3 separate regions of the Homo sapiens genome follow, and all the other regions are linked to region 3. A link means that fine-mapping ties the variant in region 3 to the plasma level of a protein whose gene starts in the linked region. Region 3 holds a variant in brackets. A gene starts in each other region. All regions are shown on their reverse strands.

Region 1 (4,111 bases), not on the chromosome of region 3:
TCGAGACCAGCCTGGCCAACATGGTGAAACCCTGTCTCTACTGAAAATACAAAAAATTAGCCAGGCATGGTGGCGGGCACTTGTAATCCCAGCCACTCGGGAGGCTGAGGCAGGAGAATCACTTGAACTCAGGAAGCGGATGTTGCAGTGAGCTGAGATTGCACCACTGCATTTCAGCCTGGGCTGTAACAGAGTGAGACTCCATCTCAAACAACAACAACAACAACAGCAATTTTTAAAAATTTCTAAAAACCATACAATAACAACTATTTATACATGATGAAGGTGAGACCCAGAGAGTTAAAAATGAATTACTCTGGATCAAACACCTGGGAAATGGGAAATGGTGGCGTCAGAATTGAACTCAGGTGTTCTTTCTTTCTTTTTTGTTTTGTTGTTTTTTTTTTGGAGACAGGGTCTCGCTCTGTCATTGAGGCTGGAGTGCAGTGGCATGATCACGGCTCACTGCAACCTCTGCCTCTCAATCAAGTGATCCTCCCACCTCAGCCTCCAGAGTAGCTGGGACTACAGGCATGCACCACCATGCCTGGCTTTTTGTACCTTTTGTAGAGACAAGGTTTTGCCATGTGGCCCAGGCTGGTTTCGAACTCTTGAGCTCAGGCAATCTGCCCGCTTTGGCCTCACAAATTGCTGGGATTGCGATGAACTCAGGTGTTCTGATCCTAAATCCAGATTTTCCCATTCTACCTTCTGCTTTGAAAGATATAGAGGAGGCCAGGAGGGCTTAGCCCCGAGGTGGAGGAAGATAAGCTGGTATGAGGAAGCTGCTCAATGTCATTTTAAACCGTTTATCCATGGGCTCAGGTCATGTCTTTGTTGGGGGCCAAGCCAAGGCCCAGCAAAGACAAATGGCTCTTCCAGTGTGGGTGGAAGAGGGGTGAGGTCACCCAGTCCTCGGCCTGTGGTTTGCTTTGCCTCAGTGCCGGGAGCAATCTCTTGCCCTGATTTGCATTGTGGGCTGAGGATTCAGGTCAGTGAGAAGGCCAGTGATAGAATTGTCTGTGTGGGTGCTGCTGATAGGGATCAGCTGCTGATCATGGCTAGGGCTAGCGGCTGAGCACACGGGCACCAGCCTACTGCTCGGGCAGCAAGGCAGCAGGATGGAGGGGTTTGTAAAAATGCCTTCCACCTACCCTGCTGGGCTTGCCCGAGAGGCTCTGAGTGTGTGAAGGGGAAGACAATTATCGCTAGGCTGGAGAATAGAAAGAGCACCATCAGGTGAGAAAGAGAAGAAAAAAAGAGAGGGGAGAGAGTGGATAAGAAGAAGGAAGCCTGGGACACAAGAACAAGGGCTTTGCTTGCTCTAGGGCTTTGCTTGCTAAACTCCTAGGGAGCACACAAGTGAGAATCCAGGGCAGAGGGAAGCAGGATGGGTGCCCTGAGTGCTTGGCCCCATTTCCTGGGGCTTACTGGCCTCGTGGGTGGGAGTTTTATAGGCTACTGCTCCTTGGGGAGGCCTCAGTGATTGAGGATACTCCTGTATGAGCCTCGGCCCTGACCCCAGGATGGGGGACTGGAGGATCCTAACAGGATTGGGGGTTGGTTGGGTGTAACCAAGGTATCTGCCAAAGGGAGAGTACCAAGGAAAGCGGAGGCACCTCCTCCCTGGCTGTCCTTCACCCCCTCTCCCCTCCTTGTTCTCTGGGAGTGGCTGGCGAGCAGCGGCCTCCCCGCAGGGCCAGGCAGGTGGGCCAGAGCTTTTGGTTTGCTGAGGTTTGTCAGATTTTCCAGCTCAGGGCCCAGCCAGCTGGCAGGAAGCAGGACAGAGGTCACTTGAATTCAGACCACATGTCCCTGTTAAATACATTAGCTTTTAAATCAATCTTTGTTCAAAGTCCAGTGAGTTGCAAGCTTAATGCTCACCTGCAGAGACAGAATTCCTGAGTGAACGAACAGAGCAGCTCCTCTTCCATCTCCAGGTAAGAACTGCTCGTGTCCTCCTTGAGGGTGCTGGCCACCGGGGCCTGAACTACCTTCTTTCTTTTCCTTTTCCCTTTTTCTTTTTCCAAGCCAGTAGCTGGCTGTCTAGGGCAGAGAAGAGTCCCATGGGGAGGCAGCCAGGCCCCTTTGGCGGTGGTTGGGGGTGAGAGATGATCCACGCTCTGAGATTCTTTCTGCTGGAGATGCCCCTCACCTTTGTAGGCTAGGGTCTGCTTCACAAAGAAATTGGTAAACCGACCTCAGAAAAAGCCTTCCCGGGGTTGTGTGGGGGTTTGATGTGCAGCCAAAGGGAGTGAGACAACTGACTTCACAGGTAACCAGGCGGATATGCCCGGGACCTTCCTACTGATACAGGGGCCTTGGGTAGCAGAGAAGACTCTTCTGGAAGCAGCCTTTAAAGGATGCAGCCTAACTTAGCTTGCCCACTAGATAATAAAAGCAGGCATCTTTCCTCTCTGTATCACACTGCAGCACTAAGACATGAGAAAAACCAGTGGATTTCCAGGCTGGCTGAATTTTAAAACATACATTCCCCAGGCTCTCACCTTTGGCATTTCTAAGTCTCCAGGCCTTGTGTGAATTGAAAGATCTTTATTTGAAAACTCTCCCAGAATCATTCTGATCAGTGCAGGTAGGTTTGGGAACCACTAGTAGTTTATTTCTTAAGCAGAAGACTCATGAGACTTAAGTATGACACTTACCTAAGGGTTCACTCGCTATGAAGACTCCTGGTCTGGGTTGGGTCCAGCTATGAAGATTTGGGCGTTGGCTCTGAGAAACACATTCTTCTTTATTTACTAAAATCTCTGCAATGTGTCACCAGGGCAGCTTTCAGTCTTGTATCTAGAAGGCAAGAGGGGGTAGCAGGGACTGCCTCAGGCCATGATTGTCCAGTCATCTGAAGTCTGCAGCAAATTACTCAGGGTCTTTGAATTTCTGTGTTATGATAGTAACTTGTGCTTATCTTTGACTTTTGTATGTTCTCTGCACCATAGGGTGTGAAGTTGCTGGTAATGATGTCTTATATTCATAGACCACTGGCTAGGCAGCTACTTCTCCCCCAGGGGAAAGAACATAGGACTGGAATACAAATCATCAGAGTTTTGATTCAGTTGCTAGTGACAGGCCATTAGACAAACTACTTAGCCAACTGGAGCCTCAATTTCATTATTGATCAAGTGAAGGTCTGTCATCTTTTCCCCAAGAGTGTACTGAAAATAAAATTATAAGTACAAATGTGTGGTCCTGCATGGTGGCTCATGCCTGTAATCCCAGCACTTTGGGATGCCCAAGCGGGAGGATCACTTGAGGCCAGGAGTTCGAGACCAGCCTGGGCAATGAAGTGAGACCCCCGTCTCTACAAAAAATAATAATAAATTAATCCTGCATGGTGGCATGTGTCTGTGGTGTCAGCTACTTGGGAGGCTGAAATGGAAGGGTTGCTTGAGCCCAGGGGGTCGAGGCTACAGTGAGCCGTGATTGCATCACTGCACTCCAGCCTGGGTGACAGACTGAGATCCTGTCTAAAAAACAAAAAACCATGAATATGTTAAAAACACGATGTAAGATGCCTAGATTTCAAATGTGTATATCGAAAGTCTCTGTAGAATAGTAAGAAGAAACAAATTGCAGTCACTTGGGAAACCTTGTCCTAGTCTTTTAATCTCATTGAGCCTCTGTTTGCTCACTTACAAATAAGAAGTTGAGACCAGATCATCATTAATGTCTTTTTCAGTTGGCCAAGTATAAGGTAGATCCTGGAGCCTTGAAGGGTAGCTCCTTGTCATTGGGGTATGAATTAAAATGTCACCTCCCAGGAAGGACTTTCTAAATCAGCCTCCCACCTCCATGCCACCAGTATCTCTATCATTCACAGCGTGTACCATCAGAAATCATCTCATTTGGGCTGGGTGCAGTGGCTCACATCTGTAATCCCAGCACTTTGGGAGGCTGAGGCAGGTGGATCACCTGAGGTCAGGAGTTCAAGACCAGCTTGGCCAACATGGTGAAACCCCATCTCTACTAAAAATACAAAAATTAGCCGGGCGTGGTACTGCCTGTCTGTAGTATTAGCTACTTGGGAGGCTGAGGCAGGAGAATTGCTTGAACCTGGGAGGTGGAGGTTGCAGTGAGCCAAGATTGTGCCATT
Region 2 (4,110 bases), not on the chromosome of region 3:
CCTCCTCCCGCATACCGAGAATGGAGCCCCTCAGCTCTTGGACAATGATGTGCAGGTCATCCACGTCCACAAAGTGCAGGTGCTTCTCGGCAGGGGCTGAGGCAGCGGCTGACAGCTCCAGGAAGTTGCCTCGGCCGGTGCTGACAATGAACACGGTGACGCCCAGGTCCTTGAGCTCCTGCATGGGGGGGCCCACAGGGTCGCTGGAGCCGCCATCTGTCACCCACACCAGCACTTTGGGCACCCCTGGCCGGGCACCTGATGCTTCAGCAAACAGCTGTTCCTTGGCATAGACCAGCGCCAGGCCAGTGTGGGTGTCACCCATGCGCTGGGCAGAAGCACGCACCGCATCCTGGGCAGCCTCACCCGAGCTGTGCTGGCCGAAGGGGAACTCGGTGTATGGCCGACTGCCCACGTGCACCAGACTGGCACGCAGGGCCCCGGTGCCCAGGGGCAGTGGAGCCACCAGCTGCCCCACAAACTCCCGAACCCGGGAGAACTCGTAGTGAGAGACGCTGGCTGAGCTGTCCAGCAGGAACATCAGGTCCCCTCGGGGGGCTGATGCTGGTGGACCTGGGGGAAAGGAGGAATGCTCAGCCTCAGGTGTGGGCCCCCCAGACAGCCCCACAGCAAGGCAGGGTCCCCCAGGGCCCCAGCTTTCCTTAAGTGGATGCTTGCCTTCTCCCAAAGGTCCTAGGTTGGGGGAAAGAGGAACTCTAAGCAAGAGGCCTGTACTTTTGGGGGTTTCACTGCACACTGGCCATGGGATCTAGGGCTCTCTCTGGGCTTGTGTTATCCCATCTGTGAGAGGGCGACTCTCCGCTCCAAGCCCCCACACCTTCCCATTCCTCACAGACCCTGCAAGCAGGTGGAGCCAAGAGTCCTGGCCTAGGCCCCCAGGACAGGCCTGAGCCGTGGGGCTGTTCCCTCCAGGCATGGCTTTCAGAGGAGCAGCCTGAGGCTGGAGTTCAGCCACGCAGCTCAGCCTGCAGGTGAGGCACCCTGGGCATGCACACAGCAGCAGGGGAAGGTGTCGGAGGCACAGCAATGACCACGCCGGATGGCCTGGCTGGAGCCCAGACCCCGCTTACTAGATGGTGGCCCCTCCCCTGGCCTCCATCCTCCAGCCCACCTGGACTCACACAACAAGATATAACCCCCAGCAGCCTGAAAGCCGGAACAGCCCCTCGCAGGCTTCCCCCTTCCTCCGGGCACCTCCGGGGTGGAGGCTGATGCCCCCTACACCGCCCCTCCCCACCAAGCCAGGGCACCAGCGTGCCTCAATTCTAGTCCCGGCCTTGCGGTTTTCCCCAGTGCGGTGGGGCGACTCCAACTTCCCTACCATCCCTCCACTAAGGGCCCTCGCAAGGGTAGGGAAACTGAGGCAGGGGTGCCCCCTTGACAGACATCTCCCTCTTCCTGTCCAGGCCCGCGATCCCGCAGAGATGCGGGCCGGGACGGCCCCTATGCCCCGGCGCTCACGGACGGTGTCGCCTGGAGCACCTGGGCCGCCAGCCTCAGGTGAGCAGGACGCTCCGCCCGCGCCCCCGCCCGGCTCCCGCAGCCTCCCAGCCCGCCCGCCCGTCCGGAGCAGGGGACAGCGACGGCCTTGCGCGGGCAGCGGCGCAGAGCGGTCACCAGAAGCCCCAGCCCCGGCCCGGCCGCCCGCCGCACTCACCGCGCTCCGCGCCGCTCCGCGCCAGCGCCAGCCGCAAGCTCAGGGCCAGGCCGAGCGCCGTCCAGGGGAGCATCGCGCGCGAGGGACGGGGCGCGCTCGGCAACTCGCTCGCTCGCTCGCTCGCTCGGGGCTGCAGGGCGCGTCACCGCGCGGACCAGGCCGGCCCCGCCCCCGGGAGGCCCCTCCCCGAGCGGCCACACCCACGCCGAGGCCACGCCCACGCCCTCCGGCGCGAGCGGAGGGCCACGCGCACAGACCCCGGAGAGGCGCGCACGAGCGGACCCCGACACGCAGGGACACGCAGCACCAGCCGAGATACGACCGAGGCACGCACGCGCAGGCACGCACACACACACACTCCAGTCTCCCTCTCCCGGCCGAGGCTGTGCGGCCCACGCTCTCCACCCCTCTCCGACCCCCAGCCGCGGGAGCCGAGCAGGGAGGTACCAGGCTAGGCCCTCCCCATGCCCACCACTGCCGTGACTCTGGGTGCTGGGGTCCCAGCAGCCAGGCCCAAGAGAACCCCAGGGGCTGGCGGTGGCACCAAAAAAACACGTCCAGACCGTGGTTTCGCCTTGGCCTCCGCGCTGGAGGCGGATAGGTGTCTGGAGTAACAGGACATGTATCCCAGGGACTGACCAGCAGGGATGGGAAGGACCATGGGGTGGAACTTACAAGGACACAGTGGCTTGAAAGGGGACAGAAGACAGGAATTCGAGAGAGACTCGAAGCACCCACGCCACCTGGGCTTCTTGGAGGAAGAGGCATGGGAGTGGGAGATGGTTGGTTGAGGCCCTGTCCAGTGGGACCACACTGGGCCTGTTACCCATATACCCTACCCAGTGAGGGGCCCAGACTCCAGGACCCAGGACACACCCCCAGCAGGACTGGAGGGTCCCACTGGTGAGACAGGAGCTCTTGAGTCTTGGGGTCTTGGTGAGGCCCAGACGAGAGGTGGCTGGTTGCAGGGGGCGTCCTGAGGGACAGTGGCTCCCAGGGCAGATTTCCCCTGCTTGGGTGGGGCTGGGCCAGCAGTGTCCCCTGGACAGGAGAACCCTACCCCGGCCCTCCCTCGGAGTAGCCATGGCCCTCTTCCAGGGCCTCCTCAGCTCAGAGCTGGGAGGTGGGGGACGTGGGGGGGTGTCTGCCAGGATGTCTCCTCCTTCCCCACCCTCTCCTGGAGGATGCGCCGCGGGAGAACGGATGGGGCTCCACAGGCTTCCTTCCTCCCTTTCAGGCAGGTGAGACACCGCGGGGCCGTGCGGACGGCCAGCACTCGACTTTGCCTAAAAAAGGAAGCAGCAGGCTGAGGCTGAGGAGCTGGCGGCAGGAACAAGGGAGAGCTGTGTCCCCGCCGGCGCCCCCCACCCCCCCTGCCGGGGATCTTGGCAGTGGAGGTGCTGGCTGCGCTCCACAGACCTCAGACCTCGGCTGGGACCAGAAATGCCTGGTGCTTCCGCCTGGGCCCGGTGGGGGGACTTTGGGTCCCCAGAGTGCAAGCTGTACCACTTCGAGGGGCCTCGCCAGGCCCCCCAGCCCCCAGTACACAGGGGCTGCCGTGGAGATGACGCTGAAGGCCGCAGCCGCTGGAGGACCTGGGGTCTGACCGGAAGCTGGCTGCAGACCCTGCGGAGGCACGTCCAGGTAGTCAGGCAGGGAGCTGGGCCGAGGGTCCCCCACCCTGGGGAGGCTCACAGCCAGTGGCCCGCTTGTCCCCCACCCTCGCCCAGCAGGCGGGCCACAGTCACACCTCAGCCAGCCTTGCAGGGCTGACGGGGAAGTTTCCCTCACTTCTGGAAAAAGTGAGCGGGTCTTCTTGGCTGTGACTCAGGCCCTCAAGGAAGCGGCCGCCCTCCTCCCTTCAGCTCGCCATCAGCGGGAGAAGGCACAGGAGGCCTGGCCTCCACCCAGCCTGGGCCGAGCTCAGCCACCTGCCTTGCTCCCGGCTCTGCCTGGAGTCCCTCCAGCTAGGAGACCCTCCCCATCAGCTCTCCCCGTGCCCCTCAGTCTTCAGGACTCATTCTTGTGTCCTGCCCTCCCCCCGCTGTCTCCACCCCGGAGGAGGGACGTGGACAGAGGGTCCCAGAGAGCATGGGGTCAGCCAGAGGTGCAGTGTCAGGGCCCGGGCCGGACTTGAGGCAGACACCGGAGGAAGCACAAATATAACAGCCGGAACCCTCCACTCTCCAGGGAGAAGGGCCCGGGGTAAGAGGCAGAGGCAAGGACGGGTCAGGCCAGATCACAGTGGGTGCTGGCCCCGAGCCCTCTGCCTCCTGCAGGCACAGCCCCTGTCTGATCCTGGTGGCCTGGGGCCCCATGGGGTGGGGAGCAGCCTGGTTTGGCTGCGGCCACCCCGCCCCCACGGTCTGGGCCTGGGCTGTGGGAGTCCCTGTGCCTCACTTCCCGGAGCCAGCCTGCCCTGCCGGTCTGTC
Region 3 (4,111 bases):
ACTGCCTCAGTAAATGCCCCCCCCCCACACACACACACACATCTATCCAGTTCACAAAGCCACAAATCCAGGAATCATCATCCTTCACGTCTTTCTCACTCCCATATCAAATTCATCAGCAGGTCTTGGGAGTTCTACCTCCAAATTATAACCTCTTTTTATCATGTCCACTGCCCACCACCTTAGACCAACTCATGTTAATCTTTTCTCTAGAAAGCTCTAGTGACTTTCTATCCTGTGGCTACTCTTGCCCAGCTACAGCCCACTCTCCAGTCTCCCTACAGCAACAACACCAGTAAACTCTTGACAACCAGGATGCCCCTAGAGCAACTGCATCTGCCAGTGGTCACCATGACCTCAGAGTCAGTCGTCCTTACTGCTCTTTCTACAGCATTTAGCACAGCTGCCCATAGCTTCTTCTCTGGCTTCCGTGACACCTAGTGGTTTTCTTACCTTTCTGGCCTTTCCTTTTGGTTACTGGAATATTGGCAAAACCTCTAGGCACAAGTGATAAGGTGAGTGTCAACACTTGATTCATTCTCCTTGGTTTAAAGTGAAGTCACTCAACTGGGTGTCAGTCCTGCCCTCTAAAATTCCATCTGAAAGGGCCCATCACTGAGGTAGATCGGAAAAACTTAATGCTGATGGACAAAAATTGAAATTGCCCAGGGACCATGCTAAAATGGGGAGGGTTTATTCACATATGCTATCTGAGCACTTGGACGGTGTCTACAAATGTCCACGGGATTCACCTGTCCAGGCATCCTTTATCTAATGATACTACAAGTCACAGCTTTAACTTGGGTCCTTAAAATAGATTGGCTAGGAAGACCAATCTTGTGTTATAAAATGAAGTGTATACAGTACACTCAACGTATATCTTAAACATAATTAACAACAGATATAAAGTGAGGATCTTGTTTTAATTACCAATCCCTCCTTACCTCGGTACTGGAGAAAATCAATGGATAGTTTATTCTGTACAAAGTTCAGGAGCTTGGCCCACCTTTAGCAATATTTTCTCTCTCTTATAAAATGAGAAGAATTATTTTCTCATAAAGAAATGGTCATATCTTGGCCAGGTGCGGTGGCTCACGCCTGTAATCCCAGCACTTTGGGAGGCCGAGGTGGGTGGATCATGAGTTGAGGAGATCAAGACCATCCTGGCCAACATGGTGAAACCCTGTCTCCACTAAAATAAAAAAAATTAGCTGGGTGTGGTGGCACGCACCTGTAGTCCCAGCTACTCAGGGGGCTGAGGCAGGGGAATCATTTGAATTTGGGAGGTGGAGCTTGCAGTGAGCCAAGATCATGCCACTGCGCTCCAGCCTGGGTGACAGAGTAAGACTCCGTCTCAGAAAAAAAAAAAAAAAGAAATGGTCACATCTTATGGGTTGTGGAAAGATCCTAGTCTCACTTTTTCCTGTATCTGGCAATACAGCAGGTTTTTGTTCTCTTTTGGTTCTCTTTTCACTTTGATTTTGATTAGGGACACTGTGTTTGTTGGGGTAAAAGGCTATGCATGTGAGGGGAGCTGGGATGAAGTCGCAATAAGCATGACCACATTCAGCTTAGAACCTTCTTTATTAAGGAAGGTCTTTCAGGCACTTTCATTAACAGGCACATATAAGCTTAGCAAGAGCACCTTTCAAAGTCACAGTTCCAATGGTTTTTGTAAGGTCAACCAGAGGCAGAGAACACAATCATGGTGGCTTACCGTCAAAATCATGACAAGTTGTCAACCTAATGCCTTCTGTCAAACATAACCACCACCCACTCTGCTTCTGTCCTGTGAGGAATGACGGGAAGTAGGGAGTCAAGACTTGATATTAATGTAGATCGCATGTGACACTTGCGTGGCCAGCAGACAAGGCCCCCCACCCATGCCCAGGCTTGGACAAAATGGTGGCTATGTTTTCTGTGCCAAACCTCCTCATCTCTGCCATGTCTAGCCTAGACCTTGAAGTGTCTGATCCTCCCCGGACATGGAGGAACCACTGGCCCAGCAGCAGCACCAACACTAGGCTGCACCACTGTGCGTGTTTTCCGGGGGTGCGACACTTCTCCTGAGGGTGACCCCAATGAGACCACACCCATGAAGGTGTGGC[G/A]CAGGTCGTAGTGCGCCCGGTGCAACTGGTGTCCTGGAGGAGCTGCCAGTAACACATGGGAGTCTGGGGGTGAGCCAGCTGGAGGGAGTCCAGGTGCGCCAAGTGGAGGGGACGGAGGTGCATCTGGGTCCACCACGGGTGTGGGGACTGCTTCATTGGCACCTTCTGGTTGGGGCTGTGAGCTCACGGGCTGGAAAAAGGACCATTTCCTTCAGTTAGTTTGCTTCCTCCTCCCAGGCAAGACAACCCACAGGCCCAGGTGGCACTGGCACCCAATTTCCTCACATTATACATTTTTATTTGCAAAGAGTCTAGCAAGAAAGGACCTACCCAAGTACAAGGGATTGTCATCAAGGTTACAAGGAGGGGTGACTGGCCTATGTTGGCCCCGGCCTCACTAGGATTGTCTTTGTGATGGTGGACTTACACGCATATGTCCAATGAGTAAAAGCACCCCACCTATGGCTCACCCTTGCCCAGCAGTGCCACCCTCTTTGTCATCTGAAGCTGCAGCCACTGGGAGCTAACAGGTAGATCTGGCCACCTGGTCTCTGCAACTCAGAAAACCACTCCCACCTCCCACAAATAAAAAGGTGGCTTTGTCAACTACACAGTAAGATGGTTCTTCCCTGTAGTCACTAGTTCGTGGGAGGGAAAGGCATAGCTAAAATATCCTTCCATTTGTTGATGATTCCGCATACCCCAGTGTTATTTCATACTGTGAGATTCAGAAGCACAGGAGAGCAAATGTCCTGTCATCACTACTGCACTGCATAAATGTGAAGGGGTCATTGTATTCTGAAGGTGTAGGCAAGAATATTCACGGAGCTGTTACCTGTGTTTGGAACACCATGCAGGTCACTGCAACCTCTGCCCCACCAAGCTTCTCACTGAGTGTTGCCTTACAAAAGCCATATTGCTGCCCACAGAGAAAGAGGATTTATTTTAACTAATTTCAAAAATGGATCCCCCCCAATTTCATTGACGCGCCAACCTTAAATTAGTTTGAAAAACCATTTTTCTTAAAGTTATAGTTTCTGCTTGTGGGAGGTATATGATTCTATATATAACATGGAAATACAGAAATACTTTGAGAGTGAGAGAGATTACCCATAATCCCTTTCTGGTGGTGGCCTAGAAAGAAGGACTGTTAACATTGATGCATTTCTTTCTTATTTTAAAATACTATTAAATATGATTTAAAAATTGAGATCATTGTGACTATACGATGTTGTATCCTGTGTGTTTTCACTTGCCATAATAGCATTTTCTCATATCATTCATTATTCCTTGAAAACACAATTTTTAGTGTCTGCACAATTTTCTATTTACTGATGTGCATGGATTATTCAATGACACCTTCCTGTTGGACATACAGATCTCTCTTTTTTGGTCTCTTTATATCCATAATAAATCATTTTTATAGATATATTCTGTCAAATGTCACTGATGAATTCTTTTTCTTTTTCTTTTTTTCTTGAGACAGAGTCTCGTTCTGTTGCCCAGGCTGGAGTGCAGTGGCACGATCTTAGTTTACTGCAACATCTGCCTCCTGGGTTCACACCATTCTCCTGCCTCAGCCTCCCGAGTAGCTGGGACTACAGGCGCTCACCACCAAGCCTGGCTAATTTTTTTGTATTTTTAGTAGAGACGGGGTTTCACCATGTTAGCCAGGATGGTCTCGATCTCCTGACCTCCCGATCCACCCGTCTTGGCCTCCCAAAGTGCTGGAATTACAGGCATGAGCCATCATGCCTGGCCACTGATGACTTCTTTAGACTAAAATCCTAGAAGTGTACATTATTGGCTCAAGGACTTGAAAGCTTTTGTATCAGAGTTATATGTCTAGAAAATGTGCACTTCACATTCCCAGTGGGTGGGCGTGACTTGGCTTCATTAGCAAATAGCCTCTCTCTTTCTCCTAACTTCATGTGCTTCCAGTGGGTGAGATGATTTGATGACAGCTCTTAAAGGGATGAGGTGACACCCTAAAAGAAGGCTTG

Direction of the effects. Alleles are on the strand shown, and positions count from the first base shown. The strength of an association depends on the size of the effect and on how common the allele is.
With allele A in place of G in region 3, the plasma level of the protein whose gene starts at base 1,889 in region 1 is higher (weak association).
With allele G in place of A in region 3, the plasma level of the protein whose gene starts at base 1,810 in region 2 is lower (moderate association).

The links. PIP is the chance, under the fine-mapping model, that this variant and not a neighbour inherited with it causes the effect. The UK Biobank Pharma Proteomics Project read protein levels with antibody pairs (Olink). The fine-mapping took linkage between variants from a reference panel, not from the people measured, so its PIPs are less certain.
Region 1: PDZK1 starts here. The variant in region 3 is fine-mapped to the plasma level of the PDZK1 protein (UK Biobank, PIP 0.99).
Region 2: it holds the start of VWA1, and the variant in region 3 is fine-mapped to the plasma level of the VWA1 protein (UK Biobank, PIP above 0.99).

Annotation. Positions count from the first base shown.
Region 1 is chr1:145,705,146-145,709,256 of GRCh38, reverse strand. It overlaps PDZK1 (PDZ domain containing 1), which reads left to right and starts at 1,889. Exons shown (of 9, transcript NM_001201325.2): 1 at 1,889-1,940. RefSeq lists an enhancer at 1,642-2,841.
Region 2 is chr1:1,433,390-1,437,499 of GRCh38, reverse strand. VWA1 (von Willebrand factor A domain containing 1) reads right to left here and starts at 1,810. Exons shown (of 3, transcript NM_022834.5): 1 at 1,679-1,810; 2 at 16-573. The coding sequence starts at 1,751. It overlaps LOC107985729, which reads right to left. Exons shown (of 4, transcript XM_017003066.2): 2 at 3,429-3,537; 3 at 3,098-3,304; 4 at 1,951-2,964. The coding sequence ends at 2,350. LINC01770 (long intergenic non-protein coding RNA 1770) reads left to right here and starts at 2,927. Exons shown (of 2, transcript NR_125996.1): 1 at 2,927-3,312. RefSeq lists silencers at 1,693-1,882, 1,641-2,010, 2,757-3,051 and enhancers at 2,837-2,896, 2,156-2,899.
Region 3 is chr3:186,618,773-186,622,883 of GRCh38, reverse strand. It overlaps AHSG (alpha 2-HS glycoprotein), which reads right to left. Exons shown (of 7, transcript NM_001622.4): 6 at 2,944-3,027; 7 at 1,566-2,298. The coding sequence ends at 1,954. Among named protein-coding and RNA genes, the nearest start is that of AHSG, 7.8 kb to the right of the region's middle. The variant G/A (reference allele first, on the strand shown) is at 2,109.